Regions from separate parts of the Homo sapiens genome. Here region 2 is linked to region 1. The links come from fine-mapping of genetic effects on gene expression. A gene starts in region 1. The other region holds a variant in brackets. All regions are shown on one strand. Distances are from middle to middle.

Region 1 (15,581 bases):
GAGAGGGTCACACACGGACCTCTGGGGCTGTGAGGCCAGGTCAGGACGATCACTTTGCCCAGGGGGACACTGGCACAAGGAGGTGCCTGCTTTGCCTAGGGCTACAGGCTGGCCCAAGACAAGGATGGGCACTCAGGTCTCCTGGGAGGCAGGTGCCAGGCCAGGCCCAACAGTCCCCTGATGTCAGCAGCTCCCGAGTTGGGAAGTGGTGGCCGCCCTCCCCTCCTACTTCCCCAGCCCCTGCGGCCGGACCCTCCAGGCAGGCCTACTTGACCACATCCTGGTATCCACCTGGCCCCAGTCCCAGCCCCTGGACACCCTGGGGTCAGAACTCTTCAGAAAGGCAGTGCAGGAGGACTCCCCTCAGGACACTGGGAGGTGTGGACAGTACCCTGGGATGGAGGGGACCGCCTCTGGGCCGCCTGGCTGGCCAGGCCCCCGCCCTGTTGCCAGTGCTTTCCTGTTGGCCTTGGCGTCCTGACCCTTGACCCCTGGAGGCCAGCGGGGATGTGGGGACTGTCAGGTCTGCTGGACGGGGCTGGGCGCAGGCGACGTGGGTGACGGCAGGTCTGGGGCCTGCCCCAGGGGACAAGTATGGACCCGGAGCCAGCGGGGACCAAGCACTGTGGCCACAGCAGCCGTTTCATTTCTTTTTCTTTTTTTTTTTTTTTTTTGAGATGGAGTCTCACTCTGTTGCCCAGGCTGGAGTGCCTTGGCACAATCTTGGCTCACTGCAACCTCTGTCTCCTGGGTTCAAGTGATTCTCCTGCCCCAACCTCCCCAGTAGCCGAGATTACAGGGGCCTGCCACCATACCTGGCTAATTTTTTGCATTTTTAGTAGAGATGGGGTTTCACCACGTTGGCCAGGCTGGTCTCGAGCTCCTGACCTGAGGTGATACGCCCACCTTGGCCTCCCAAAGTGCTAAAATTACAGGCGTGAACCACTGTGCCTGGCCTAATTTTTGTATTTTTAGTAGAGACGGGGTTTCACCATGTTGGCCAGGCTGGTCTCGAACTCTTGACCTCAGGTGATCCACCCGCCTCAGCCTCCCAAAGTGCTGGGATTACAGGTGTGAGCCACCGAGCCTGGCCACACACAGCACCCGTTTCTTTGGGCCCCTGCCCCGCAGCGGCTGAGTGGTTCACCCTCCACCTCTCTGTGGGTGGGTCCTCCTGACCACAGGTGCCCAGCCAATGGTGGGTCCCGGGGGCAGAGGCCGTCAGGTCATCCATGGCCATGGTGACAGTCACACTGACCTGATATTGGAGCCAGGGCATATGAGGTAGGGCCCTGCTCCCCTTCCCCCAGGCCTCTGCCTTTTGTGGGGACCAGGATCACTCCTGGGGCATCTGCCCTGCGGAGGCAGCTTTGGCTACAGAGCTATGTGGACCACTCCAAATAGGAAGCGTGTTGCAACATAGTTGGATGACACACCTGCCCGACAGGTGTGAGGGGGAGAGGAGGAAGGACCTATCTAGGGGCACATCAGTGCTAAGGGGGCTGCCAGATGTGGAGGCCGGGGAGGCCCCAGCCCAAAGTGACACCAACAGCTGGGATGGCCCAGGAAGCCCCTGGCAGGGTGTGTCTCTCAGGAAGGTGGCAGAACCTCCATGCCAGGCCCCAGGCCACCGTGGGGCGATGTGGCTGCCATCAGCCGTGACCATCACCCTGCTGGACACACACTGCCCAGTGGTCAGTTCCACCCCTCAGGGCCTCAGCCGTGATGCCCGTCTCCTTCAGTGGGTTAACTTACACAGACCGTTCCACGGGACCATAACTGTTACATCCCTGTAGACATTCCTGAACATGCAAAGAAGAAAATGGAACTTCATGCTTCTGCTTCCACTAATAACACGTGGACTGTTTTGAGTCTTCTTGCCCTTTTTTTTTTTTTGAGATAGAGTCTCGCTCTGTCGCCCAGGCTGGAGTGCTGTGGCGCGATCTCAGCTCACTGCAACGTCCGCCTCCCGGGTTCAAGCGATTCTCCTGCCTCAGTGTCCCAAGTAGCTGGGATTACGGGCATGCGCCACCACGCCTGGCTAATTTTGTATTTTTAGTAGAGATGGGGTTTCTCCATGTTGGTCAGGCTGGTCTCGAACTCCCAGCCTCAGGCGATCTGCCTGCCTTGACCTCCCAAAGTGCTGGGATTACAGGCGTGAGCCACCACGCCTGGCCCAGTGTCAGGTCTTTCTCTCACCCAGACTGGAGTGGAGTGGCACCATCTCAGCTCACTGCAGCCTTGACCACTCGGGCTCAAGCCATCCTCTTGTCTCCGTGTACCTGGGACCACAGGTGCACGCCACCATGCCTGGCTAATTAAAAACAATGCTTCTATAGGGAAAGGGTCTTGCATTGTTGCCCAGGCTAATCTTAAACCGCTGACTTCAAGTGATCCTCCCGCCTCAGCCTCCCAAAGTGCTGGGATTACAGGTGTGAGCCACTGCGCCCCGCCCACATTTTCTATTTTCAGGAAAAGTGGTGCCCTGTGTGCGTGGCCTGGCGGCATGTCTCTGGGGTGTTGTAGCTCCTTGTTCTCTGTCGGGCTTGGGATGGGGGCACAGGCAGCATCTGGCCTCTCCTGTGGGCTCAGAACTGATGGAAAAAGAAGGCTCAGGGATGAGAGCTGGGGCTCGCCTTACAGCCTGGAAGGCGGTGGAGGGTGGTGGGGGCTCTGCCTGCGATGGAAAGTGCAGTCCTCCCTCGCCTGAACGGGATGGTCCAAGGCCTCCCTCCCCCTCGAGGGGCCTCCCTCCCCTCCAGCGGCCTCCCCTGCCTGCCCACTCCCACCTCTCACACCTATGGACTGAGCGGAGGGGGCAGAGAAGGGGCAGACTGGAAGAGGCTGAACCCAAGGCTTCCCTCAGCCTCCAGAACCCTGGATCAGAACCGTCCGTCCTCTTCCCCCGCTCCCCTTACACTGATGCAGGGTCGGTGGCTGCACAGTGTCCATCTCTGCAGCTGGCTGTCTCCATCACACATCGTACAGCGGCAAACACTCCCCAGCTAATGTCCTTGGGGTGTCTTCCAGGGTTTCCTTTGGGTCATTTTTTATAAGTGGTCTTCCTCAGTTAAATGGATAAACACACTTAAGGCATCAAAACTCACTTTATTATTTTCTTAATTTTTATTTCTTGGAGACACGGTCTTACTCTGTTGCCCAGGCTGACGTGTAGTGGCTCAATCACAGCTCACTAAAGCCTCCAACCGCTGGGTTCAAGTGATCCACCTGCCTCGCGCTCCCGAGTAGCTGAGACCATAGGTGCGCAACACCACGCCCAGCTAGTTTTTAAAAATTGTTTAGTAGAGACAAGGTCTCACTATGTTGCCCAGACTGGTCTTGAACTCCTAAGCTTAAGTGATCCTCTGGCCTTGGCCTCCCGAACTGCTAGGACTACGGGTGTGAGCCACCGTGCCTGGCCTTTTCTTTATTTTTATTTTTTTGAGACAGAGTCTCGCTCTGTCACCCAGGCTGGAGTGCAATGGGGCGATCTCAGCTCACTGCAACCTCTGCCTCCCAGGTTCAAGCAATTATCCTGCCTCAGCCTCCTGAGTAGCTGGGACTACAGGTGTGCGCCACCACGCCTGGCTAATTTTTCTATTTTTAGTAGAGATGGGGTTTCACCATGTTGGTCAGGCTGGTCTCGAACTCCTTACTTCGTGATCCACCTGCATCGGCCTCCCAAAGTGCTGGGATTACAGGCGTGAGCCACCGCTCCGGGCCAGCCACTTTATTTTCAAGGTATTCCTTTTAGGCTGGGCATGGTGGCTTGGGCCCGTAATCCCAGCACTTCGGGAGGCCAACGCAGGTGGATCCCTTGAGCTCAGGAGTTAGAGACCGGCCTGGGCAACATGATGAAACCCTGTCTCTAGCAAAAATACAAACAATTAGTGGGGTGTGGTGGCACACGCCTGTAATCCCAGTTACTCGGGAGGCTGAGGTGGGAAGATCACTTGAGCATGGTAGGTGGAGGCTGCAGTGAGCCAAAATCACGCCACTGGGCTCCAGCCTGGGCAACAGAATGAAACTCCGTCTCCAAAAACCAACAAACAAAAAAACATACCTTTTATGTCTACATTGAAGAAAATAATTCCATGTCTGCTCTTAAGTGTCTCATTTGGTGCCTAGAAACAAAACCTGATTAAATGTCATCTACGGTCAATCAAATAAAAGCCTTCGTGGCAAACTCACGCTCGAAGCAAAGGGCGTTTGCCTCTTCAAGGAGCTCTGTGAGGAAGGGAGGTGGCTGAACCTCACCCTGCACACCACAGGCCCCCGCGCGCCTCCCTGCCCCTCCTCAGGGCCTTCCTCTACCTCTCTTCTGCCTGGCCTGCCTCTGGTCTCCTCCTACCCCCACTAGGCTCAGAGAATCTCCCCTCCACACCCACACCACAACCTACTTTAGAAGGGCTGCTGCATTTCCTCCAGGCTTTCTGACCCCCTTCCTGTCCCTGCAGGGCAGGGGCCCCGAGGAGCTGGAGGCCCAAGGGCCTTGTTCTGGTCCCAGGGCCTGGGGACACCTGCCACCGAGGGCCAAGAGGAGGATGGACGTGGACACAGCCCCGAGAGCCTGGCCCGGACACAGCAGCAGCTCTGCAGAACCAAGGCAAGCATTGGGGACCTTGTTGGGAGTCGGGGGGCAGCCCAGGGGCCAGTGTCTGAGGTCCTGCTGTCTGTCTGGCCACCCAGGACTCCCTCATCCCTGGAAACTGTGCTTTACCATGGAGGCCACCCACTCTGTCTCCTCTAAGGTTCTGAGGCTGAATGGGCTAGGGGGCTTGCGGGGAGGCCCCAGTGTCCAGCACTGTGGGACCTGGCAGGGTGCCTGCGGCCAGGACCCAGCGGGGCCAGGTGTTGGTCTAACAGTGCAGCTTCGTTCATATCCCCAGCCCCTGCCCACCTGCTCTGAGCACAGTGATGGCCCTGGGAGGTGGGCCTGGGCCCTTGGCAGGCTGGGGACAGCCTAGTGGCCCTTGTCCCATGCTACCCCCTTTCCCACACAGCGATGCTGGCATCAGACACCATGCTGAGTGCTGGCAGGGGCGAGGGCTGGGAGGCTTCCACACATGGTTCCCCATGCAGTCCCACCTGTGGGCATCTGGTTGGGGGTAGGCTGGAAGCTCGGGGAGCCTGGAGCTGGGACTTCTGTGCTTGCCTGGGAGCTCTGAAGGGTGAGGCTGGGCATCCAGGGTGACACAGCCCAGGGAAAGACATGGGGGTGACGTGAGAGGTGCCTGGAGGGAGCTGGCAGGTATGGACATGATGGACACGGAAGCACGGAGGCGGGCAAGTGGCCAGACGCATCTAGGGGAAGGTGTGGGGGAGGCGCCCTTAGGAAGGGCCCTGAAGGGCTGTGGGCAGCAGGGAGCCCTGGGAGGCCTAAAGCAGAGGGCAGATAGATGAGGGCTGTTGTCTCAGGTGTGGGGCGGACGAGGTGGGGAGCCCTCACCCAACAGGAGGCGAGCTGGTCCTGTGTGGCCTGAACTGCAGCTGTCTCCTCTGTGAAACGGGGGTATAGCTGACCCCAGGGGGCTGCCTGGAGCATCCCGGGAGGTGCCAGGCCCAATAGTGCTCTGGGAAGGACAGGGCCCTGGGCTGTTGTGGGAGGCGGCAGATCCTGGTACTCACATCCTCCTCCTTGGGGAGGGCCTGATGGTTGGCTGAGGCCTGGGTGGAGAGCAGAGGGTTGGTTCTGACAGGGTTGGGCTGGCCAGAGCTGGTGCTGGGGCTGCTGCTGGGGGCCCGTGCCTCTCTGCCGTGGGGTGCCTGGGGCTGTGACCTCATGCTCTGTGGCCTGCAGGGCAAGTGACACGGATCTGGGCAGCCAGGGTGGCAGGATCGGACTGGACCCCTTGGCAGGGCCGCTGTGGAGACAGCCCAGGGGAAGGGGTGCAGGGGTCTGGACACTCCAATGGCCTTGCTCTCGGGCTGGCCTGGGCAGCGGAGGGAAGGAGAACCCTTCTCTGATACTAGATGGTGCCTGGGAGAAATCAAGGCAGAGGGTCCTAGCCGGTGGGCTCTTTGGAGGTTGTGGCTCCTGTCCGGGTGAGAGCCACCATATATTGGGGCCTAACGTGTTCCCTGGCGCTGTGAGTCCAGGCTGCCTTGGGACTCAGGAGGGTGGAGCCCACCCCACCTTCCAAGGGCCCTGGCCATCCCTGCCTGCCGACCACCCCACTCCTGGGAGCCTGCTTCCCTCACGGCGGCGGGCAGGCCGTGGCGGTCCCCACGAGGGCCTCCTCTCCAGGGCCGGCTGGGCAGGGAGCCCCGAGGCCTGCAGCCCCCTGACTGCCCTCCGATGTACTGGCGGCAGAAAAGGGCTGCGCCCCACGTGCGCCCTTCGGGGCGCGCAGTCCGCCCAGTGCTCCCCACGGCCGCGGCCATTCCAAGGACCTGCAACGCCGCCTCTCCCACTCCGCTCTCTGGGAAGCCAAAGCCTCCCGGGCTCCGCTTCCGCACCGCCCCTCGGGAAGACGGCGCGACCGCGCCCCCGGCACGCCCCGCCCCCGGCAGGCACTGACCACGCCCTCTCCCGGCCATGCAGAGACCCCGGCCCATGTTTCTCAACTCGTCTTCTCGCTTCCGGCCCCGCCCCGCGCCGGAGGCCCCGCCCCACGCTCTTTACCTCTTCTGCTCGAGGCGGGCCCCGCCTTACTCCCTGGTCCCCGCCCCACGCCCGAGGCCCCGCCCCGAGCTCTTCACCTCGTCTTCTCGCTTCCGGCCCCGCCCACGCCCCGGCCCCGCCCCGCGCTCCTCACCTGTCCCCTCGCTGTCGGCCCCGCCCCACGCTCCTCACTTTATCCTCGCGCTTTCAGCCCCGCCCCGCGCCTGAAGCCCCGCCCCACACCCTTTACCTCGTCCCCGCGCTGCCGGCCCCGCCCCGTGTTGAGGCCCCGCCCCGCGCTCTCACCTCGTCCCCGCGCCCCGGCCCCGCCCCCGCACTTCCGGACGCCGCCGGCGGGGGCGCTCGGGCCTGGGCTTCGGCGCTCTGGCTCGGGCTCTGGCTCGGGAGGCGATCGTGGCCGCTGCCGCCGCCAGAGCCGGCCGGAGTCGGCCCGGAGCCGCGTCCACGCGGAGCGGGCGGGTGGGAGCTGGCGGCTGGGCCCCTGCGGCGCCCCCGCGGCCTGCCCCGCGTCCGCCTCCGGGCCGCCGAGCCGCAGCCGCCGAGATGGGGGCCGCCCCGGGCCGCGCCCCCGCCGGGTCCCGCCCGCCGCGCTGCCGCTGAGCGCATGGGCCCGGACCGCGCCGCGCCGCTCCGGGAGCCGGGCCCGGGGTCCCGCCACCACCGCGCGCGGGTGAGTAGGGCCGGGCTCCGGGGCGGGCTAGGCCGCGGTAGGCCGGGCGGGCGGGACCCGGAAGCGGCGGGGGGCGCGGGTGGCTGACGCGCGTGGGACCGAGGGGGTGGGCGCGCGGGGAGCTGGGGCCGGGGTGTCCCTGGGCAGCGGGACTGGCGGCGCGGTGGCCGCTTGGAGGTCCGAGGCCTCGGGCGCGTCTCGGGGCACGGAGCAGCTGCAGGGGCCGCGCATCGCGTGCGGGGGCCCGGGAGAGCCGGGCCTGGAGCCCTCCCCGCCGCCCAGAAGTCGGCGGGAGTCCGGCTGTCCCGGAGGAGGACACTCCCGCCCGCCCTCGCCGAGGCCGCGTGCCGGGTCCGGGTCGGGGTTCGGCCTGAGTAGCCGCGTGCTCCGGCGTCCGTACCCTCCAGGTTGATGCCTTGCTGCCCAAACACTGGTCTTTCTCTTGGGTGTGGTTCTTAGATTCTACCCCCGCCCCGCACTTTGGAATTTAGCCCCCGTGAAACCAGAGCTGCACTGCCCGAGCAGTGAAACTTTCAGCTTGGCATTGAAGAAAGTAGAGAAAAACATGTCAGTTCTCTGGGGATTTTTCTCAGCCCATCTATAAGATATATATATATATATTTTTTGTAGAGATGGGGTGTCACTATATTGCCCAGCAGGTGTTGAATTCTTGGCCTCAAGCGATCCACCTGCCTCAGCCTTCCAAGGTGTTGGGACTACAGGGGTGACCACCGTCCTCTAAGATAATTTTTTTTTTTTGAGACGGAGTCTCGCACTGTAGCCCAGGCTGGAGTGCAGTGGCGCTATCTTGGCTCACTGCAACCTCCGCCTCCCGGGTTCAAGCAGTTTTCCTGCCTCAGCCGCCTGAGTAGCTGGGATAACAGGCATGCGCCACCACATCCGGCTAATTTTTGTATTTTTAGTAGAGACAGGGTTTCACCATGTTGACCAGGCTGGCCTGGAACTCCTGACCTCAGGTGATCTGCCCACTTTGGCCTACCAAAGTGTTGGGATTACAGGCGTGAGCCACCGCGCCTGGCCCCTTCTAAGATAATTTATAAAGGGTTCTTATGTGCATGTCAGCCCCTTGTTTTTGCTCACACTTCTGTTCTCTGCTTCTTCAGGAAGAATCTCGAGCTTACTTGGATCCACAGGCCCTATTTTGGAGAAAACACAGTCTAAACCGGCTACCCGAGATACTCAGCAATAGCTCGGTTTCAGTTTTTTTTTTTTTTTGAGACAGAGTTTTGCTCTTGTTGCCCAGGCTGGAGTCCAATGGCGTGATCTCCGCTCACCGCATCCTCCGCCTCCCAGGTTCAAGCGATTCTCCTGCCTCAGCCTTCCCAAGTAGCTGGGATTATAGGCATGCGCCACCAAGCCTGACTAATTTTGTATTTTTAGTAGAGATGGGGTTTCTGTATGTGGGTCAGGATGGTCTTGAACTCCCGACCTCAGGTGATCCGCCCACCTCGGCCTCCCAAAGTGCTGGGATTACAGGCGTGAGCCACCTCACCTGGCTTTGGTTTCAGTTTTAAGATCTCCATTCAGGGACAAGGATGGGAAAGCATGAAAAACAGACTGTTTTTGTTTGATTTTCAGCTGGTGTTGACTTGTCTTGGGTTTCTAGTTTCAGAAAAGCTAAGCAGACTTTTTCGGATTACATTGGTCATTGAGAATTTCAGTGATGGGGGAATAAATTACATGTGAAATAGTAGCCCTGAACCTTCAAGAGTTAAATCAATGGACAGCTGGGAAGATGTCAGAGTCGTGTTGTGTTACTTGCCTCCTCCATGTAAATCAAAATGTCAAAAGTTACGTTTGGGTAAAATAAATACCTACACACGTAGGTAGCATTGAGTTTGCTGCCATGATGCCTGGAGCATATGCCTAAGCGGTGACGAAAGGGAATTTTAAATACAGTATCATACTTGTAGGCATCCCGCCCGTTTTATGGACTCACTTTATTGATGGTAGCTACAGGCTGTGGGCCAGATTCAGTGCTTGCAGGCATTTGATACTGAACTGAGTAAACGTGACTGCTTTATGTGTGGTGTGTACTTGTGTGTACACTAAATGCTTGGTGTGCTTCCCTGTGGGAACCCAGAGATTTCAGGAATTGGGACATGTTTCAACAACATCAGTAGCTTGTAGAGGGGTTCATGTGCTTCCAGGGACACCAAAAAGTCTTCTGTCAGTTGACAGCCAAAAATACACATGATTGTAAGAAAATTTTCTTCTGGGCTCTGAAAATTTGGTTCACACATGAATTAAAACATTAGTTTTGGGGCCAGGCAAAGTGGCCTGTAATCCCAACACTTTGGGAGGCCGAGGCGGGTGGATTGCTTTGAGCTCAGGAGTTTGAGACCAGCCTGGCCAACGTGGTGAAACCCAAAATACAGTAATTAGCCGGGCGTTGATGACTCGTGCCTGTAGTCCCCGCCACTTGAGAGGCTGAGGCTGGAGAATTGCTTGAGCCTGGGAAGCTGAGGCTGCAGTGAGCTGAGATCGCCCCACTGCAGTCCAGCCTAGGCGACAGAGCGAGACCCTGTCTCAAAATAACAAAAAACAAAACAACAAAACCCATTAGTTTTGGAAGAATTTGCTGCTGTTTTCTGTGGTACAGTAGTTCAGCCCCTGTAGAGAGCCAGTGTTTGGCGTCTGTGACAAATGTCTTTTCTTTTTTACATCAGTGAATGACTTACTGGTGCCCGTTAGTTGCAGGACCTTGTGCTGGGTGCTGTGGGTCCCGCTACTACCAATAATTAACACAGAAGACTTAAGTCCCTTATGAGAGCATGATGGTGACTTGTGGTTAGCCTCCCTTCTGAGCACTGTCTGATTAATCACTTTCCACTCTCCGGTGACTTGGTTCTTCAAGCTAGTGAATGGTAGTACATCTATAGTGGTAAGGCTCAGGTGGTCAGGGTGCAGGCCTTCTTTCCTGTGATGGCGTCCCAGACAGATGACCGTGAGCTAGTGTGGAGGTGCCCACGCCCAGGGTGCTCCCTCCATGCTGATGTGGCTCACGGAGTGACTGCCGCTGAAGTGGTCTGTGAGCAGCAGGATGTCACAGCTCACTGGGCCTTGACCTTTAGAAGCTGTGTGTTCCTGCTGAGGCCAAGATGACATACTACCCAGCAGCGTTCACAAAAAGTCCTTAGCTGCTGAAATGTCATTGGGGGCACATAGTTGCAAACCATCCTCCATCTATGGGTGCTTCTTATTTATTTACTAATTTTATTTTATTTTATTTTATTTTATTTTTTTGAGACAGAGTCTCACTCTGTCGCCCAAGCTGGAGTGCAGTGGCCGGCGCGGTGTCGGCTCACTGCAAGCTCTGCCTCCCGGGTTCATGCCATTCTCCCACGTCAGTCTCCCGAGTAGCTGGGACTGCAGGTGCCCACCACCATGCCTGGCTAATTTTTTGTATTTTTAGTAGAGATGGGGTTTCACCGTGTTAGCCAGGATGGTCTCGATCTCTTGACCTCGTGATCCGCCCGCCTTGGCTTCCCAAAGTGCTGGGATTACAGGTGTGAGCCACTGTGCCCGGCCTATTTTTTTTTTAGAGACAGGATCTTGCTCTGTTGCCCAGGCTGGAGTGCAGTGGGGTGCGATTATAGCTCACTGCAGCCTTGAACTCCTGGGTCAAGTGATCCTCTTGCCTCAGTCTTCCAAGTAGCTGAGACTACAGGCATACGCTACCATACCCGGCTAATTAAGAACTGTTTTTTGGTAGAGATTGGGTCTCACTATGTTGCCCAGGTTAGTCTTGAACTCTTGGGCTCAAGGGATCCTCCAGCCTCAGCCTCCTGAGTAGCTGGGACTACAGGTGCGTGACACCACGCCTGGCTCTGTGGATCCTTCGTGCTTCCAGCCGTGAGCAGCTGTTGGCTGGTAAAGTGTGTGCAATGTGAGGAAGTTGGTGTGGGGGACAGATTCCACATAGACAAGGGACAGCAGTGTGGAGTGGTGGCTGGGGGATAGATCCCCCTTCAGTTGGTCCTGGGTTTTAGGGTTTTATTTGTTTGCTGTGACTTGTTCAGCACTCTAGGCTTTTGAACCCAACATGCTTCTCTAAAGCCCTCTCTCCAGCCCCTTTTAGCCAGGACCACTTACATCATGGCAGGCTGTTGTTTCAGTCACCTGCATGGCCGGGTTGACAGGCATAGCCAGAGCTCCTGGGCTCCTGTAGGACGTGGCAGGAAGGACCATAGACCATGGCAGGGGTTCTGTTGGAGCCCTTATCTACTCTCTTTTGCACACCCCTTGCAGGCTTGTAGCAGCAGCAGCAGTAGTAGCAGCAAATTCTATAGTTCCCTGATGTCTAAGAGGGTGGGTGGTTTGGTTTTCAGCTTAAGGAGTGAAGTCACATGAACTATAGCTTCCTTAGCTAAAAATTGTATTTGCATTTCCTTTTATTCTGTACCTTCTCTGTTCCTTGAAGTACCCATTTACTATTTGCTATCTGAATCCTCATCAGAGAGGCTTTTCAGAGTCAAGTGCAGCATTCTGACAGAGCATTTTAAGATTGTCTCCAGTGACGGTGTCCGAGCGCCTCTGTGGGCCTGGGTGGTGTCCTTGATCCCTCGGTCGATGGGGCTGAAGGTGACCCATGATTATCTCTCTTTGAGGCGTGTGTTGAGAGTCGGAGGAACACCCTGCAGTGTGTTCTCATGTGTCGGAAGGTGTACCACGCGTGACGTGATGCAGCAGGTAGAAAACAGTGGCCGTGGGCCTGGAGGACGTGGGGTTCAGAAGACGCCCACCACCTTCGGGGCTGTAGCGCACCTTCCTTTCTCTCTGAGTGTTGCTGGGGCTGGTGGAGCGATTGTCTCCATCTTACTTGTGAGGGTCCAGCCCTCACTCAGGTTTGTACACATAGTCAGGACTAGAGGCAGCTTTCCTTCCTCCGGTCTTCCTGCCTTCCCTGTCCCTCAGCTCTGCAGCTGAGGTGGGAGGTGCTCAAGCTGCCAGCCTCCGTGATGTTTGTGCAGTGAGACTTGTGGGGAGTGGCATTCCCATGTCCTGGGCATCCCTTCTTAGCATGAGAGGCATTCCTGTAGTTGTAAAAGTTTCCAGAAATTGCTTTAAAGTAGAACTATGCTTGTGGCCAAAATATATCTTGATTGAACATTTAAACTGAGTTTCTTGCTTTGAGTTTGAGCGGGAGGGCGTCATCGTGAGTCTTGTCTTGAGAAAACCTCTGGTCGTGTTTCATGGACCCACCTTTCCTAATCCTTGTCCTCTTAATGGTTTCAACAGGACAGATTGATTCACTTTGGAGCTGTAAGTACTGATGTATTAGGGTGCAGCGCTCATTGTTCCTTGACGCAGAGTCCCAAAATGAATATCCAAGAGCAGGGTTTCCCCTTGGACCTCGGAGCAAGTTTCACCGAAGATGCTCCCCGACCCCCAGTGCCTGGTGAGGAGGGAGAACTGGTGTCCACAGACCCGAGGCCCGCCAGCTACAGTTTCTGCTCCGGGAAAGGTGTTGGCATTAAAGGTGAGACTTCGACGGCCACTCCGAGGCGCTCGGATCTGGACCTGGGGTATGAGCCTGAGGGCAGTGCCTCCCCCACCCCACCATACTTGAAGTGGGCTGAGTCACTGCATTCCCTGCTGGATGACCAAGATGGGATAAGCCTGTTCAGGACTTTCCTGAAGCAGGAGGGCTGTGCCGACTTGCTGGACTTCTGGTTTGCCTGCACTGGCTTCAGGAAGCTGGAGCCCTGTGACTCGAACGAGGAGAAGAGGCTGAAGCTGGCGAGAGCCATCTACCGAAAGTACATTCTTGATAACAATGGCATCGTGTCCCGGCAGACCAAGCCAGCCACCAAGAGCTTCATAAAGGGCTGCATCATGAAGCAGCTGATCGATCCTGCCATGTTTGACCAGGCCCAGACCGAAATCCAGGCCACTATGGAGGAAAACACCTATCCCTCCTTCCTTAAGTCTGATATTTATTTGGAATATACGAGGACAGGCTCGGAGAGCCCCAAAGTCTGTAGTGACCAGAGCTCTGGGTCAGGGACAGGGAAGGGCATATCTGGATACCTGCCGACCTTAAATGAAGATGAGGAATGGAAGTGTGACCAGGACATGGATGAGGACGATGGCAGAGACGCTGCTCCCCCCGGAAGACTCCCTCAGAAGCTGCTCCTGGAGACAGCTGCCCCGAGGGTCTCCTCCAGTAGACGGTACAGCGAAGGCAGAGAGTTCAGGTGAGTCCGACGCCAGGCGTCCACTTTCTGTACTCACCTCCGAGAGCTGGAGAACAAGCCAGGGAAAGGTGCTGATGAGGCGGGCGTTAACCCACACCGGATGTCCTGCTGCCGCTGGGGTTGAATTTTGGTTCTGTTCTTATTTGTGATACTTTTGCATTTGTCATTACTTTTTTATATTTGTAATGTTGAGAACACTTTTACTGAGAACAGACTAAAATATATGACTTTATGAGTCATTAGGAACATCGGAATTCTTAGAAGTCACAATGACATGTAAACTTTACCCTTCAGCAGTAAAGTCTGTCACCTCTTAAATAGGAGCTGGATCTACCCAGTAGACATGGTCCTTTCCGCTTAATAAAGGGAGGAGTGGACGTTTCAGGGCATCGATAAGAATTGGAGAATTGGATTCTTGCTTTTTTTTTTTTTTGAGACGGAGTTTCACTTTTGTTGCTCAGGCTGGAGTGCAATGGTACAATCTCAGCTCACTGCAACCTTCGCCTCCCGGGTTTGAGCGATTCTCCTGCCTCAGCCTCCTGAGTAGCTGGGATTACAGGCATGTGCCACCACGCCCGGCTAATTTTGCATTATTAGTAGAGGTGGGGTTTCTCCATGTTGGCCAGGCTGGTCTCGAACTCCCGACCTCAGGTGATCTGCCTGCCTCGGCCTCCCAAAGTGTTGGGATTACAGGCGTGAGCCGCCGCATCCGGCCAGATTATTGCTTTTATAATGATCTTCTAAGCTTCTTCCTACAGGCTGAGAAATAGCAGGGGGGACGTTTTACGTGTGGGGAATGGTCAGAGTACTTTGAAAACTTCCTGTGGCTATAGTGGGCATTCCAGGATTGGGCCTTTTTTCCTGCCAACAAAATCTGTTGGTGCTGTTGTGTAGTCCACAGCAGCCTGGACCCTGAGGCGATCCTGGCAGGGCCTGTGGGGTGCGTGTGTTGCCTGGGAGGGAGCAGAGTGGTGCTCAGCCTTGGAACCTGTTTCTTCGTTCTTCCTTCCCTGTGATCCCTGCGTGGTTCCTGGAGGTTTATTTGGCTTTCGGGCTGGCATCTACTGTGCTTGTGAGCAGAGCGCATGCATTTCCCACTCTTTCCCTAGAGCTGGTGACCGGAGGCTCCGGCCTGTGTAACTTTGAAAGCCTGGAATTCATGTGACCCCTGCTGACCTAATCAAGACTCCGAAAGCACAGCCCCATGTGCTGGGACTCTCCTGAGGAGTTATTAAAAACTCGCATTAGTTCTTCAAGCTTACTGTGACACAGAAATTGGCTACTCGCTCATCAACACAGGATTAAACATGTCTAAGGTTAAACTTGTAGTCTAAGTGATACGATTTAAGATGGACTGTCGACTGGGCGCAGTGACTCACACCTGTAATCCCAGCACTTTGGGAGGCCGAGGCGGGCGAATCACCTGAGGTCGGGAGTTCGAGACCATCCTGGCCAACGTGGTGAATCCTCATTTCTACTAAAAATACAAAAATTAGATAGGCGAGTTGGCGCATGCCTGTAATCCCAGCTCCTCGGGAGGCTGAAGCAGGAGAATCGCTTGAACCTGGGAGGCAGAGGTTGCAGTGAGCCTTGGTTGTGCCATTGCACTCCAGCCTGGGCGACAAGAGGACAAGAGTGAAACTCTGTCTCAGAAAAAAAACAAAAAAAAAACAAAAAAGGATTGTGTAGGTTAATTGGTTAATTTTTTTTTTTTTTTTGAGATGGAGTCTTGCTCTATCGCCCAGGCTGGAGTGCGGTGGCGCCATCTCGGCTCACTGCAAGCTCCGCCTCCCAGGTTCACGCCGTTCTCCTGCCCCAGCCTCCCAAGTAGCTGGGACTACAGGCGCCCGCCACCATGCCGGCCAATTTTTTGTATTTTTAGTAGAGACTGGGTTTCACCATGTTAGCCAGGATGGTCTCGATCTCCTGACCTCGTGATCGCCTGCCTCAGTCTCCCAAAGTGCGGGGATTACAGACGTGGGCCACCACGCCCGGCCTTTTTTCCCTTTTGTTCATTGTCTTTAGCCAAGTGGTATTTATTTAGCAAGCATTTTAGGACACAATA
Region 2 (15,581 bases), 68 kb after region 1:
TGTCAGAGTAGAAACCACCATCAAGGTCGCCCAGTGTACCCCGGTGGAGGTGTCCACGTGAGAGGAGCTGCTGTGCTGCCCCAGGATGGCCTCAGTTGTGGCGCCGGGGGGCCCTCAGCCTCCCTGAGGTGCAGACCGAGTTGCCACGCACGCCCCAGAGCCAGTGTCCACGCTATCGGTGGGGAATTCATGCCAAGAGACTGAAGGACAGACTCTCGGGACGAGATGTCATCCCACCAGAGGGGATGAGGTGGTGGGATCCCAGCACCCCTGATCGGAAGCTCCCCAAAGTGCGGTCCAGGGAACTCAGGGGGTTGGTGCCGGGATCATGAATGTGGGGCGCGCTGCAGTATCGGGTACCACCAAGGCAGGCCTAGGAGGGGACTCGGTGTCTTGTCTACCCTGCAAACTGGAGCCTGCGCAGGGTGGGTTGTTCGGGCCCTTCACGCTCCGTCCGTCCCTGCGCAGCAGCATTGGTCGAGGCTCCCTCCCCAGGGCTGGTGGCCGCCGGCACAGCCACCTTTGACGCGGGTTGTTCCCTAGGTATGTGCAGGAGGTTATGCGGCGGGGACGCGCCTGCGTCAGGCCAGCGTGCGCGCCGGTGCTGCACGTGGTACCAGCCGTGTCGGACATGGAGCTCTCCGAGACAGAGTACGTGCGTCCTGAGGGTCCTCCCGGTCCTGCCCACCCCAGCCCTGGCGTCCCAAGCCAGGTCCCATCGTAGAGCCGCCGTCCCGGGGCTTGAGCTCGGGTACCACGCTCAGAAGCAGCTGTGGCAGGAGAGGGTCCCGTGGCATCAGACTCGAAGCTGCCCGAGAGCCTTCTCCTGTCTCCATCAAAGGAGACGCTGACTGTCCAGCATGATGACAAGTGACCAAAAGGCCCGGCTGGAGGCCTGGGCACAGCCAGCCCCTGCATCCACACAGGTGTCACGGCCAGGCTTCCTGTGGGGCAGAGACCTGCCTGCGCCTCCACCCGGCTTGGAACGGGCCGGTCCCTGCCAGGCCTGACTTGACCAGGCTCGGGGCTGCAGGTGCTGAGGTGCCCGGGGTGCGTCTGCTTGCAGTGTGGGTCTCAGCCATGCGTGTCTGTCCAGCCCGTGCAGTCAGTGAGTCGGGGCTCTGCTCCCACCTACAATGCTGACTGCTCTGAACCCGTGAGAAAGGGCTCAGACCATGTGATCCCACATGGGCCGTGTCGACGGCGCCTTTATGTGCTCAAGGTGGCAGGAGGAGGGGGCACACCCCAAAAGGGGCCTTGAGAACAAGGGTCCCCCAGGCCTTGCCAGGCTTGCCCCAGATGCAGGTTTGTTGTGGCCCTCATCGTGTAGGCGGTCTTGGGGCAGCCTTCACCTGTCCCTGGGGCAGCCCCCACGTGTTGGCTCTTCTCTGATGGGCCTGGCTCCAGGAGGCTCCGAGGATGTGGCACTGGGAGGACGTCTAAGAGCGCACGTGGCTGGGGGCCTGGTGTGCAAAGAGGATGGTCACATGGCTCAGGTGGCCATGAGGCCTTCCTGCCCTGGTGTTGGCTCTGGAAGCCTCTGGTGCACCCAGCCAGGAGGAGGCCCAAGGGCTGAACCCCAGTGGGCCAGGGGCAGCTTCTGGAGTCACTTGAAGGACAGGTGGCGGCGGGGTAGCCGAGTGGGGGGTGCGAGAGCAACCAGGCCCCGCCCGTCATCCCGGCACGGCTGTGGAAGCACAGCACCTGTCAGAGGAGGGCCCGGCTCAGCCTGGGCAGGAGACGGTGCCAGCCCTGCCCCCTCTGAAGGGCCTGCTGGCCACCCCCGCCCCAGTCCTCCGACAAACTTCGCTGCGGGGTCAGGCTTATCCAGAAATCGTGCACAGTTCTGTTTGTCCAATCCCTGCCCTTCAGATGTTTTTAAGGTTTGGGGGCCGTAGGTCTTCCTGAGATAGGAGCCCTGCAGCCTGCCCTGCCATCCTAGAGGTGGGAGCTGCAGTGCACCTGGCAGCCAGGCCCTGGCCAGTCGAGGGTGGGGCTGTGAGGCAGCAGGGAGACCTTCGTGCTCCCAGTGAGCGGAGCCGACTCCACTGCTAGCGGACTAGATCCCAGATTGAGATGCTGTGCGGGGGCTGCGGGCCCCAGGTGTTTGAATGGGGTGCTGCTCACCCCTGCAGGCCTGCCCCGCCTTACACTGGCAGCCTGAGGCCAGCAGGAGGGACCCTGTGGGACCTCAGTCCAAAACCAGGTACCACCGCTGCATCTCTTTCCCCAGGACAAGATCGCAGAGGAAGGTGGGCGGCGGGAGTGCCCAGCCGTGTGACAGCATCGTTGTGGCGTACTACTTCTGCGGGGAACCCATCCCCTACCGCACCCTGGTGAGGGGCCGCGCTGTCACCCTGGGCCAGTTCAAGGAGCTGCTGACCAAAAAGGGCAGCTACAGGTGAGTGTGAGGGCTGGGGTGCCCCCTCCCCGCACGAGTATGTGGGTGCCCAACGGTATGAAAAAGAGGGTTTCCAGCCGGGCACAGTGGCTCACGTCCTAATCCTGGCACTTTGGGAGGCTGAGGTGGGCGGATTGCCTCAGCTCAGCAGTTCGAGACCAGCCTGGGCAACATGGTGAAACCCCGTCTCTACTAAAAATACTAAAGAAATTAGCCAGGTGTGCTACTTGGGAGGCTGAGGCAGAATTGCTTGAACTCGGGAGGCAGAGGTTGCAGTGAGCTGAGATCACGCCACTGCTCTCCAGCCTGGGTGACAGAGCGAGACTCTGTCTCTACCCCCGCCCAAAAAAAAAAAAAGAAGAAAAAGGGCTTCCGGCCATTTCAGCTCATGTCCCTCATCTGCAACTAAAGCCACTTCTCCAAGCCCTAGGCTGAGGGTGGCATCAGGCTTTCGGCCCCACAGGACTGAGAGGGTCCAAAGGGACCCCCGTCCAGGGCCCTCATCTTCGGGGTGGGAAAACAGAGGCCAGACCCCTAGACGACGATGGTCTGAACCTTGTGTTAGGCTCCCCTAGGCCGACCTTGTCTCCAGGCTCTGGACTCATGTGCTTTTGCCTGACTGAAAAGCCAAGCCCCCTCCTACCAAGGTTCATTCGCCCTGGGCCACTCAGCCCTGCAGGGCCCTGCGTGCAGCCAGCCTTGGAGGCTCCCGAGTGAGCACTGGGCGGTGAGCAGAGGGGGCCTGACCCCAAGAGCCTGGCAGAGCCTGGCGGGTGGTTCCCACCGTCCACAAGCCACTGTGCAAACACCCCATGACTGCAGATGTGGTGCTGAGGGAGGGCCCCAGTTGGGGTCACCTCCATGACGGGGCTCAGCCCTTGGGAAGCAGACACCCCACACCCGTCCACTTCCCCCCTGCAACTCCTGAGAGGCTGGGGCAGGTACTCCCAGGGGGATGTGGGGTGCTCCCAGCAGGCAGTGAACTCACCCCCCATGGCTGCCCACTTCACCCACATGTGGTCATTGCACTGTTCACTGTTGCCCTGGGAGGGGGCGCACATGCAGTGGGGGCCGTGGGGCATGGACAGGAGGCTCCTCGGGATGGGGTGTGGACACGCCGTCCCCTGCCACAGGCCTCCTTCCCATCTGCGGTGCTGCCTGCTCACTGCCCTCCTCACCTCCGTCCTGCAGATACTACTTCAAGAAAGTGAGCGACGAGTTTGACTGTGGGGTGGTGTTTGAGGAGGTTCGAGAGGACGAGGCCGTCCTGCCCGTCTTTGAGGAGAAGATCATCGGCAAAGTGGAGAAGGTGGACTGATAGGCTGGTGGGCTGGCCGCTGTGCCAGGCGAGGCCCTTGGCGGGCACGGGTGTCACGGCCAGGCAGATGACCTCGTACTCAGGAGCCCGATGGGGAACAGTGTTGGGTGTACCACCCATCCCTGTGGTCTACCCGTGTCTAGAGGCAGGTAGGGGGTCCCTCCAAGTGGTCCACAAGCTTCTGTCCTGCCCCCAAGGAGGCAGCCTGGACCACTCCTCATAGCAATACTTGGAGGGCCCAGCCCAAGTGAGGCAGCCGAGGTCCCTGCTGCCAGCTTCAGGTGACCCCCCCCCATCCCCCGGCACCTCCCTTGGGCACGTGTGCTGGGATCTACTTTCCCTCTGGGATTTGCCCACGTACCCAGGTCTGGGTGGGGCCCAGGCCCGGATGCAGAGGCCTGCAGGGCCTCTGTCAATTGTACGCGCCACCGAGTGCCTTCAACACAGCTTGTCTCTTGCCTGCCACTGTGTGAATCGGCGACGGAGCACTGCACCTGCCTCCAGCCGC[C/T]GGCTGTGCAGTCCTGGGTCCTCCTTTCTGAGGGCCCGTGTAAATATGTACATTTCTCAGGCTAGGCCAGCAGGGGCTGCCCGAGTCTGTTTTTCATGCGATGACACTTGTACAATTAATTATCTTTTCAAAGGTACTTGGATAATAATGAAATAAAACTGTTTTTGAACCTGCCCTGGCTGTGGTGTGTCTTCTGCGGGTGGGGCCTGGCCTAGGTCTCCCAGCCTCAGCCCCCGTGGTAAAGGAGGGCACACTGGCCTCCAGCAGGCATGGGGATCACCTGTGACTCAGAGGCTGGCAGGGCTAGAGCAGGAACGTGCTCCACCTTCCTGCCCTGGAGCCCCCAGCTGGGCAGAGCTGCATCAGGCCAGCCTTGCTGAGGGACCAGGCACACAGAGTCCAGAACCAAGCTCACTCTTTATTCACAATGCACAGCTCCCTCTGGTACCCAAGGGGGTGGCTCCTGTCCAGCAGTGATGGCGGGGGTGACACGGGGGCAGCTACAGTTCCTCCTTGGACCCCATAGTGGAGTTGGCCGGTGGCTCCTAGAAAGGGTCACAAGTGCAGCTCGAAGCTCTGCTCCCAGCCTACCCCTGCCCCCGCCCCTGCCAGCCCTGTGTAAAGAGGATTTGTGCAGAGGCCTGGAGCCCTGGCTTAGGGACACCCACCGGGAACGGGGCTGCTGGCTCCTCCGGGGGCTCCTCCGTGGGCAGCACGCCCCCGTTGTCCAGGAACTTGGAGAAAGTCTCCAGGTCCCTGGTGCTTTTGTATTCAATCACCTGAGAAGAGGCAGGGGGATCTGGAGGACACGTGGGGCCCAGCCCCATGCCCAGCAAGATGGCACCCCGGCTTCCTCCCCAGCCACCTGTCCGCCATACCTTCCGACCTGGCCCTGCTGGGAAGTACTTGAGAGTAGGGAAGCCGTGCACAGCGAAGGCATCCAGCTCGTTGGCCGTGGCATCCAGCTCAGCAATGATGATGTCCTCGTGGTCTTGGTACTTCTCAGCCAATGCCTCCCAGGCAGGGGCCATCTCCTTGCAGTGGGTGCACCACGGGGCATCTAGGATGGGAGCCGTTGAGCACAGCCATCTGGGCAGCCCCTGCCCAGCCCACACCACCCCTGCCTCCCTCAACACTCACAGAACTTGACAAACACATTCTTGGTTTCGTCAAAAGCCACCTGCTCAAAATTCTTGCCCACGAGGGTCTTAACTGGCCGCTGATCCCAATCAGGGGGTATCTCCTGGCTCAGGAGATAGGGCTGGGGGAAACCAGGACAGGCGCTTTGCCAGGGGTCCTCTGCAGGGTTCAGGAGGTCCTGTGCAGGGCCTGGGGGGTGGGGGGGAGGTCCTGTGCGGGGTCAGCGGCAGGGGGAGGTTCTGTGTGGGGGGGGCGGTGGGGGGGAGGTCCTGTGCGGGGCCGGGGGCAGGTGGGGGGGAGATCCTCTGCAGGGCCTGACAGGGAGGTCCTCTTCAAGTTTGGGAGAACTGTGGGGTTTAGTGGGGGGAGGGAGAACTGTGGGGTTTGGTGGGGGGAGGGACCTCTGTGGGGTTGGGGTTGAGGTTGGGGTTGGGAGAACCGCGGGGTTGGAGAACCGCGGGGTTGGGGTTGGGAGAACCGCGGGGTTGGGAGAACCGCGGGGTTGGGAGAACCGCGGGGTTGGGGTTGGGGTTGGGGTTGGGGTTGGGAGAACCGCGGGGTTGGGGTTGGGAGAACCGCGGGTTTGGGGTTGGGAGAACCGCCGGGTTGGGGTTGGGAGAACCGCCGGGTTGGGAGAATTGCCGGGTTGAGGGGGGCCTCTGCGGGGCCTGCAGGGGCAGGGGGCTCTGAGAGCTGCTGTTCCCACCCCCTGCCAAGCTGGTGGGATGAGGTCAGGGTTCCCCTTCCATTATGAGCAGTCTGCAGCGGACCTTGACTTGGCCGTTGAGGACTGCATGGCAGAAAGCAGTGATGGACGCTGCGGTGACAGGGCCCCCATCCACAGGCGCATACTTCTTAGTGGTTTCAAGGTTGACCAAGCGCAGAGTGGGGGCTGCCTCAGCCTTGAGTCCAAAGTACTGCAGCACGTGCTCATTGTCGGCCGCCACGTCCACCACCACGAACAGCACCTGTGGCAGGGAGTCCATGCTGGCACCGGCCACTCTCCCGCTGCCCCTTTCCCCCAGCCCCCCAGTACCTGCCCCCGGAAGCGGGGAGCTGCCTCCCCAAAGCCCGCTAGGAGCTCCCGGTGCGCAGCCAGCGTCTGGTTGACAAACAGCAGCAGGTGGTTGAGGATCCTGGCCGCGAAGATCTTGGCAGACGTCTACAGTAGGGAGGGTGCTCATGACTCCACAGGACCCCCAGCCTAGGCACCCCCATCCCTGGACGACTCTACCCTGGGACACCCCCAGCCCAGGCACTGCAGCCTACGCACCTGGCTGTTGAACTCCGTGACCAGGCGCATGCTGTGTGTGACCAGGAAGCGCGACAGATCCCCCAGGTCCAGGCCAAGCTCCTCGTCCACGGGGAAGTCTGCCCGCCCCTCATCAAACTGGACAGCAGCAGGTGGGTTAGCGGGCGCTGCAGCCGGACCCCAACCCACACCTGGGCCTGACCTACCTTCTTGAAGAGAACCACAGTGTCCTTGGTGAGGCCAAACTGCTGAAAGAGCCGCGGCCGGTCTGTGAGGCCAAAGGTCATGTCCAGGGCGTCCTGGGCCAAGGCCAAGAAGGTGGCCACGTCCTCGTCCTGCAGGTCCTGAGGGGCCTGGCCCTGTGAGGCCACCCGGTCCCACCCACAGTCACTGCCCTCATGGCCCGGCCCCCCATGCCCAGTGGCTCACCTGGAAGAAGCCAATGACCACTAGGTCCCGGCCACCGATCAGCGCCTGGGCGGCCGCCTCGTCCTCCAGCCGCATGGCACTGGGCCCCACCCGCCGTCGCAGCCACTCGGCAATGCCCTCAGCGTCCCGTGGTCCTGCAGGGAGTCCCCCTCAGCCTCGGCCTGGCCACCGCCCCCCCAATGACCGGCCTGCCCCTCACCTGTGTACTCCTCCGGGTGCGTGCGGTTCCCATTGCGGAAGAACTTGAGCGTAGGGTACTCCGTCACACCAAACTCCTCAGCCAGCTCGCGCTGCGCGGGCCCATCCACCTTGGCCAGCGTGACCACCATTGACTCGGCCGCGAGCACGGCAGCTGCCTTGCTGTACTCGGGGGCCAGGGCCTGGCAGTGCCCACACCACGGGGCATCTGGGGGATGGGGCCGTGAGTGCCCCAGGCCACCACAACCCCAGGAGCACCCTCTCCACACCTGACAACCCAGCAGGGAACAAGCGTGCTGCTCCATTCTGCCCTGAGCCCTGGCCGTGGACAAGCCGAGCACCAGTGCCTCTTCGTGGCCCCCCAGGCTGCAGCACAGGGACCAGTAAGGCTTGGGAGAGCTTGAAAGACCACCCCCCCTCCCCCCACAGCCAGGCTCAGTGGCTCACGCCAGTAATCCCAGCACTTTGGGAGGCAGAGGCGGGCATATCACCTGAGGTTGGGAGTTCGAGACCAGCCTGACCAACATGGAGAAACCCCATCTCTACTAAAAATACAAAAAATATTAGCCGGGATTGGTTGCGTATGCCTATAATCCCAGCTACTCGGGAGGCTGAGGCAGGAGAATTGCTTGAACCTGGGAGGCGGAGGTTGCAGTGAGCCGAGATAGGGCCACTGCACTCCAGCCTGGGCGACAAAAGCAAAACTCCATCTCAAAAAATAAAAATAAAAAGACCCCTCCCTTTCGTGCCTTGTATGGCTGGGGCTCCCGGGCCCATGTGGCTGCCTGTGAAGGCCTCCTAGGCAAGAACAGTTCCTATGTGTGTCAAGGGTTGCGAAAAGACCACAGGGCACACACGTCAGGGACCTCCATGGGCCCCCAAAGCCTGGATACTGCCCGAGCCTCTGCAGAGTCTGTGGGATGCCCCTGGCAGCTGGAGGAGTGGCCGGCAAGGTGGTGACTCTGGCACCGTGGCCGCTGGCCGAGCAGGGAGGCACAGGTGTTCTCAAGTCCTGTGGGTACCCCCAGTACTACCACACTGCTCCTGCCTGCCCCAACCAGACCCCCAGGCCCCTCCTAGAGAGCTCCTGGGCACAGTGGGGGCAAGTGCCTGCGGGGAGGCCCCTCTTGGGCACATGCCCTGCATTTGCCGGCAAAGGGTGGGGCCCCCAGGTGGGCTCTGCCGGTCCCCCGCCGGTCCCCAGCCCCACTGGCCCCAGCACTCACAGAATTCCACCAGCAGGGCAGGGTGCTCCCGCAGGGCCAGGCCCAGGGTGTGGCGGCTCAGCACCAAGATCCCATCCTCCTTGGGGATTTCCTCCTCTGGAGGCTCCTCCGAGGGGCTCCTCGCTCCCTGTTCCTGACCCCATGGGCACGAAGCCCTGAGCAGCAGCAGCAGCAGTACAGGCAGAAGCTGGCGGCTCATGGTGCTGCCAGGGCGCGTGGGGCGGGGGCAGATAAGGGGGCCAGAAGCCAAGCAGCAGCTGCCACGTGGCACACAGGCCCAGTCCCAGCAAAGACAAGGCCCATGCGGCCGCCCCCGGCCCCCAGGGGAGGGGAGGCAGAAAGAGACGACACCCAGGGCACCGAGAGAGACAGGGCCATGTTTAATGGGACAGCTCAGGGGACAGCGCCAGGCCAGGGGGTCCCGGGACAGAGCAGGGGCAGCAGGGGCAGCAGGGGCAGCAGGGGAGGGTCTGGTCACTCACGGGGGGTGCTGGGGATGCTTGGGGGTCCCTGTGCAACAACTGAGGGAGGTAGGGGAGACACGGACTGGGGGTTCAGTCCTTCCAGTCCTGGCAGATGCAGAGACCCCACTCCCAGGACAGGTGGTGCGTCCTGTCATCGTCGGTGAAGAGGGACACCACCAGATAGGGGCCCCGCACCAGCGCACCCCTCGGCGCTTCCTCCACCGGAGTCACAAACTCATACTCCTGGGCGCTCGGGCCATAGCTGCCCACCATGTAGACGGTCTTGTCCACTAGGGAGGGCGAGGGCATCAGAGCTGTCCTCTGTCTGCCCCCGCTTCCCCCCCCCGCCCCGTTCCCCCCACCGCTGCCCTCACCGCGCAGGCCCCGGCGGTAGGTGTGGTGCAGACACTTGAGGCCGCTGACAATCTCCCTGTGGACCTGGGAACAGAGGCATTAGGGGTTCCTCTGGGGGCCAGGCCTCTGGCTGTTGCCCCCACCCCCATCCCCTCCGCCCATTGCCCCGGCTCTCACCTTGAAGGAGATCTTCACTCTGTAATCAACACCTTCCTTCAGGACAAACACCTGGTCCTTCAGAACAGCCAGGTCCCCTATTGGGGAAACCTCAGCTAGGGTCGGAACTCCCCTACAGGCTGAGACCTGCTCCAGGAGCCCCCACGTAGGGTGTGGTACCCATGAGGTGTGCGACTGTGATGGCCCAGGGCTCGGAACTCAGGGGTGCAGAAGCGTGCCTGGGAGGGCCCTACCTGTGTTCAGGGTGCAGCATCCTGCGAGTTACCTGTGAGATCCATGACGACGGGCCCCGGAGCCTGTTCCGACAGGAGTGTCAGCCTGGTCACCTGCACATTGGGCAGGCTTGGGTCTGAGGAGAAACTGGAAGTCTGCAGGATGCCCCCCACCCCCACCAGGCTCCTCACCAGCCCCCCAGACCCAGCCCTCCAAGCCTAGACCCCTGCCATACCCACGGCCGGTGGCAGGGGCCCCAGCAGCACCCGCTTGTACTTGGCCAGGCTCCTGTCGTCCGGGTCCAGCTGCCGGATCTCCAAGAGGCTCTTCCTCCCCGGCGCCCGGTACTCGGGCACAGCCTCATCCAACACCTCGTCCACTGCCGGCGGCCCACCCTCCTTGTCAGCCAGGAGGACTGGGGGTGGGGAGGGGCGTGAGCAGCAGCCACTAGCGGACCCTGGCATTCGAGCACCAGGCTGGAGCCCCCTCTGGCCAGCTGTACCTCCCACTATCCAAAGGGACTCAAGGGAAGCCTCTGGGGGCTCAGGGAGAGAGCGAGCAGAGAGAGCAGGGCGGCCTGGGGAGGTGCCGCACCGCACCCAGACCTTCAGGAGGGGCCTCCAGAGACCGCCAGGCCTGCAGCTCCTCTGGCCCAGATGTCCACAAGGGCCCCCTCCCTGACTCGGAGACCAAAGGGCGGGGGAGCGAAGACTTCAGATGAGGGCAGCCCAGGGTCAGGGGCTACCTGCTAGAGAGCAGCGGCCCTCGGCGGCCCCCAAACCTACTGACCCTCTAGGGCCCTCGGCGGCCCCCAAACCTACTGACCCTCTAGGGCCCTCGGCGGCCCCCCAAGCCTACTGACCCTCTAGGGCCCTCCACCACCCTGCTCTGGACTGGGGTCTCTGAACACTTTCCCACAGTCTAGGAGTTCCTCCCCATGGTGCTCGGGTGCCGGGGGCGGCTGTCTCCAAATCCCTGGGCTCAGGCTCTGCGCCGCCTCCCATGGCGCCCCGGGCTGGTGGCCTCCTGAAGCCCCTCTCCCTGGTGCCCTGGGCAGGGGTTTCTGAGTCCCTGCCCACTTCGCTCCCGTCTTCTCGGGGATCACCACACGCCCTACAGAGCCTGAGCCCCAGCCCCAGCCCCACCCAAGACAGAGGGGCTCCAGGCGGCGGTGTCCAGGGGGAGAGGGTCCCAGCGCCGCCGCTTCCCAAGCCGACCCGTCCGCACCTGGTCCCTTCCCCACAGGGCTGGAGCCTGGATGAAGTCCCCCACCCCTGCCAGACCCCAGCCGGGGGGTCGGCGCCGCGAGGTCCCCATGCGCGCCCCCAAAGTTGCCGCGGGGGAGGGGCTACTCCCCGCCCGGGGCTGAGACCAGCCGAGCCCCCCGCCCCTGCCCGGCCCGCTCACCTCGGGCGCACAGCGCCAGCCGGAGCAGCTCCAGCAGCTGCGCCCCCAGCTCGCACGCGTCCAGGCCCAGCATGGCGGCGCGCGGCCCGGGCGCCGCGGAGCCGCCGAGGAGCCGCCGCCCGCCCCGCCGCCGCCCCGCTCGGCGCTCAGCCCCGGCGCGACTGCGGTGAGCTCATCCCGGCCGGGAGCGCCCCCCGCGCCCAGCCGCGCCCGGCAGAGAGCCCCCAGCCGCTCCGGACCCCGCGCAGCCCCGCAGAGACGCGCGTGTCGCCCGCACGGGCCGGCACCCGGGTCGCCCCCGCCGGCGTGCCAGGACCCCGCACAGAAGCGCCCGGACGCGGACGCACGCAGCCGCGGTCACGATCCCCGCCGCCCGCCCGGCCCGTGCCCGGCTCTGGCCAGCAGGGCTGCCCCACCCCCACGGCGCGGCGGGAGCCCGAGGGGGTCTCCTGGGAAACCCTCTGCGGGGCGCCGTGGCGCAGGTGCGCCCCCATCCCCAGGGTCTCATTATCCGCGGCCACACCTGGGGCCGGACCGCGCGCCCCCTTCCCCTCCCCCGCTCCTGAGGGAGCTTCTGTCTGGGCCGAGGGGGACTCCGGGGGCCTGCCCAGCCTTGGGGTGAGGGGCTGGCCCAACACCCTACAGGTTCACGGTCATCAGTAGGGCGGGACCACAGTGGGCGCGGGTCGCACGCACACCCAGGAGGCAACAAGGGCCCCTCAAAGGCTTAGCGACCTGGCTGCGCTGTGTGAGTTCCCAAGAGGGGGTGTCCCTGCAGGGCTCTTGGAAACCCAGTTACCGAGCCCCCTGTCCTCAGGGAGAGGACACTGACAAGGGGGCGGAGTACAGAGACCGGAGCACAGAGGGGGCTTCTGATATTGACACCTAAACTGAGACCTGTGGGTGGGTGGGGGGGATGGGACCCGGCAGGGGACAGGGGTGAGCAGGCCCTGGCTGGGACAGCTGGACCAAAGGCCTGCGTCTGGATAAGGGAGAAGGGGTCCGAACACCAGCCTGAGTCCCTTTCTTAGACACCCCTGGCCGGTTCCAGGGACACCAGAAATTAGACCCGCCCTTGCCAAAGAGCTCCTCAATTGAGAGAAGACCACCTTGGGTGCTAGGGGGCATTGGGGTTTGGGTGGGGACTGTCTCCCTTGCCCCCCAACTGCCCACAACCTTTCCAGGGCAGGATCCTATGAACTTGTGCCCAGGCCCCCCTAGAGCGCCACCTCTGCTGACCCTTCGCTGCAGGGAGCGGGGGCTGTTAGGACACTTGTCCCCAGGCCCACAGCTCCAGCTCCTGCAGCTGTTACCAGATAGAAGGTCTTGGAGGTGAGTTGTCCAGGTTCTTGGTGGGTTGAACAAAGAATTGAACAAAACGCACAAAGTAACAAAAGAACAACGAAACACAAGGAAACAAAACTGAGTCAGAAGAACGGAGTAAGGAAAGCACAGATTTAACGGAAGGCAATTCACAGAGTGGGAGTGGGCTGGAGCAAGTAGCTCCAGAGCCTCTGTAATTAGGATTTTTATTAAGCAAAGAAACCTGACCACAGCCCTTGTGCCCTTTAGAGGCCTCCAATTGGCTACACCCTATGAAGGATTGGCCCGAGACCAATCAGAGGTGAAGTGGAAATTTCTGTCTTGTTATCACAGCAGCCAGGATGTGGCTTGTGAGCTGCCCAATCCTGCCTAGAACTGGCTGCACCTGCTGTTCCGTTTCTTATGCCCAACCCTTGGCTACCCTCATTCCCTATTCTGCCTCACAGCTACCATGGGTGCCCACCCCTGCAGACAGGGCAGCCAGACCTGGGCCACCTCACCCCACCTGGGTGTGGGGCATGGGAGGGCTCACTGGGATCCAAGCGAGATGGTACCCTGGAGTAAGAGACCCCACAAGCCCCCTGCCCCAGCTCATGCTGAACGTGGCCTCTCCGGCAATGGAAATGGACTCAGACCACTATGTTAGGGGCTCCCAGCCCAAGGCCAACCGCCCACCCTGCCCAGCCCCTAGCACCCTCTGAGTGGGTAAGGATGGGGAGAGGTACTCTGCCTCCAAGAAAGCAGAAATAGACCAGATGCGGTGGTACACATCTGTAGTCCCAGCTACTCAGGACGCTGGGGTGGGAGAATCACTTGAGCTCAGGAGTTTGAGGCTGCAATGAGTTTATGATTGCACCACTGCACTCCAGCCTGGGTGACAGAATGAGACTGCCATCTCTCAAAAAATAAATACATAGCCAGGTGCCATGGCTCATGCCTGTAATCCCAACATTTGGGAGGCTGAGGCAGGAGGATCACTTGAGGCCAGGAGTTCAAGATCAGCCAGCCTAGGCAACACAGCAAGAAACTGAGGCCCTTACAGACAGGGATAAGCGAGGGGCTACGTGTATATTTATCTACAAAAATAAAAATGAAATTAAAAAAAAAATTAGTGGCCAGGTGCGGTGGCTCATGCCTGTAATCCCAGCACTTTGGGAGGCCAAGGCAGGTGGATCACTTGAGGTCAGGAAGTTTGATACCAGCCTGGCCAACACGGTGAAACCCCATCTCTACTAAAAATGCAAAAAAAAAAACAAAAAAAAAAATTAGCCGGGCATGGTGGCGCATGCCTCTGATCCCACCTACTTGGGAGCTGAGGCAAGAGAATCGCTTGAACCCAGGAGGCGGAGGTTGCAGTGACCCGAGATTGCACCATTGCACTCCAGCCTAGGCAACAAGAGTGAAACTCCATCTCAAAATAAATAAATAAATAATTTAAAAAATAAAGAAAGCAAGCAGAAATAGATGCATTTGCACCTTTTAAAAATGGTGCTGAGGCTGGGCTCGGTGGCTCAGGCCTGTAATCCCAGCACTTCGGGAGGCCGAGGTGGGCAGATCGCCTAAGGTCAGGAGTTCAAGACCAGCCTGGCCAACAAGGTGAAATGCTGTCTCTACTAAAAATACAAAAATTAGCCAAGCGTGGTGGCGGGGGCCTGTAATCTCAGCTACTCAGGAGGCTGAGGCAGGAGAATTGCTTGAATCTGGGAGGAGGAGGTTGCAGTGAGACGAGATTGCGCCATTGCACTCCAGCCTGACAGAGCAAGACTCAGTCTCAAAAAAAAAAAAAAAAAAAAGATGCTGGCTGGGCATGCCTTTAATCCCAGCACGCTGGGAAGCTGAGGCAGGAGGATGGACTGAGCCCAGGAGTTTGTGACCACCTTGGGCAACATAGTGAGACCTCGACTTAGTTTTTAAAAAATGATCCGACCGGGTGTGGTGGCTCACACCTGTCATCCCAGAACTTTGGGAGGCCAAGGCAGGTGGATCACCTGAAGTCAGGAGTTTGAGACCAGCCTGGCCAACATGGTGAAACCCCATCTCTACTAAACATACCAAAATCGGCCAGGCACAGTGGCTCACACCTATAAGCCTAGCACTTTGGGAGGCCAAGGCAGGCACATCACCTGAGGTCAGGAGTTCGAAACCAGCCTGGCCAACGTGGTGAATCCCTATCTCTACTAAAAATACAAAAATTAGCTGGGTGTGGTGGCGCGTGCCTGTAATCCCAGCTACCTAGGAGGCTGAGACAGGAGAATCGCTGGAACCCAGGAGGCGGAGGCTGCAGTGAGCCAAGACCGCATCACTGCACTCCAGCTTGGGTGACACAGTGAGACTCCGTCTCAAAAACAAAAACAAAAATAAAAATTAGCCAGGCGTGGTGGTGGGAGCCTGTAATCCCAGCTACTCAGGAGGCTGAGGCATGAGAATTGCTTGAATTCAGGAGGCGGAGGTTGCAGTGAGCCGAGACTGCCCGGTGGGGCCTGAAGATCCTGGGCCTGGCTCGGGGTGCACCTGGGGGACAGGCATAGCCATTGGAGGAGGGAGAGAGCTGGGAGTGGAGTGGGGCCTGAAGCCTGGCGGCCGCCGGTGACACTAAGTGGGTGTGTGTTGAGGGCCTCCCTGCAGTAAAGCTCCTCTCCAACAGTGTCAGGGTGCCCTGGGCAGGGTTTCTGCTCATTCCCCAGCGGGCCACCCAGGCCTGCGTGGAGCTGAGGGAAGTGAGCCATGAGCCATCAGCCACTTTCCCGGAAGGACCCCGGATAAGGGACCCACAGCAGGAGATGGGGACAGCTGGGTCACACTCTGCAGCAGCCACGTGCTCCACTGACAGCCGGCATCCGGCCCATGTAGAAAGCTGACCCAATCTCTCATGCACCCTGCCCCTAACCAGCCACCGTCACAGCAATGTATGCAGTCTTGGCCACAAGCATCGCAGGACACAAGGCCTCGGGCAGTCATACCGCTGGCCCTGGCCCCGGCCCCACAGCCAGGCCTCTAGTCCCTGTATGTCCTCAGGGCCCCACACATAGGACCGGGGTTACAGTGGGCCCTAAACCACGTTTCCCACCCCAGTTCACTCTCCCTACGGGTCTCCTCTACTCACGGAACCCCTCTCCCTCTCTGAACCCCCATCCCCTCCGCTGCCCTCCCTGAGACCCTCCCCATAGTAAC

The links.
Region 2: its variant is fine-mapped to the expression of AXIN1 in whole blood (TOPMed, PIP above 0.99).

The regions. Positions count from the first base shown.
Region 1 is chr16:344,083-359,663 of GRCh38, reverse strand. AXIN1 (axin 1) reads left to right here and starts at 6,941. Exons shown (of 11, transcript NM_003502.4): 1 at 6,941-7,295; 2 at 12,558-13,516. The coding sequence starts at 12,639. RefSeq lists silencers at 6,273-6,532, 6,573-7,052, 7,153-7,232, 7,513-7,562, 7,583-7,652 and 1 more and an enhancer at 10,156-10,435.
Region 2 is chr16:276,260-291,840 of GRCh38, reverse strand. It overlaps ARHGDIG (Rho GDP dissociation inhibitor gamma), which reads right to left and starts at 11,250. Exons shown (of 6, transcript NM_001176.4): 1 at 11,088-11,250; 2 at 9,916-10,095; 3 at 9,733-9,816; 4 at 9,468-9,544; 5 at 9,311-9,374; 6 at 8,831-9,226. The coding sequence starts at 11,160. The coding sequence ends at 9,027. PDIA2 (protein disulfide isomerase family A member 2) reads right to left here and starts at 8,677. Exons shown (of 11, transcript NM_006849.4): 1 at 8,473-8,677; 2 at 7,248-7,454; 3 at 7,049-7,182; 4 at 6,826-6,963; 5 at 6,641-6,757; 6 at 6,404-6,529; 7 at 6,138-6,335; 8 at 5,368-5,488; 9 at 5,106-5,287; 10 at 4,896-5,006; 11 at 4,626-4,772. The coding sequence starts at 8,671. The coding sequence ends at 4,728. AXIN1 (axin 1) reads left to right here. Exons shown (of 11, transcript NM_003502.4): 9 at 544-651; 10 at 2,234-2,401; 11 at 3,593-4,401. The coding sequence ends at 3,719. RefSeq lists an enhancer at 10,352-11,109. The variant C/T (reference allele first, on the strand shown) is at 4,228.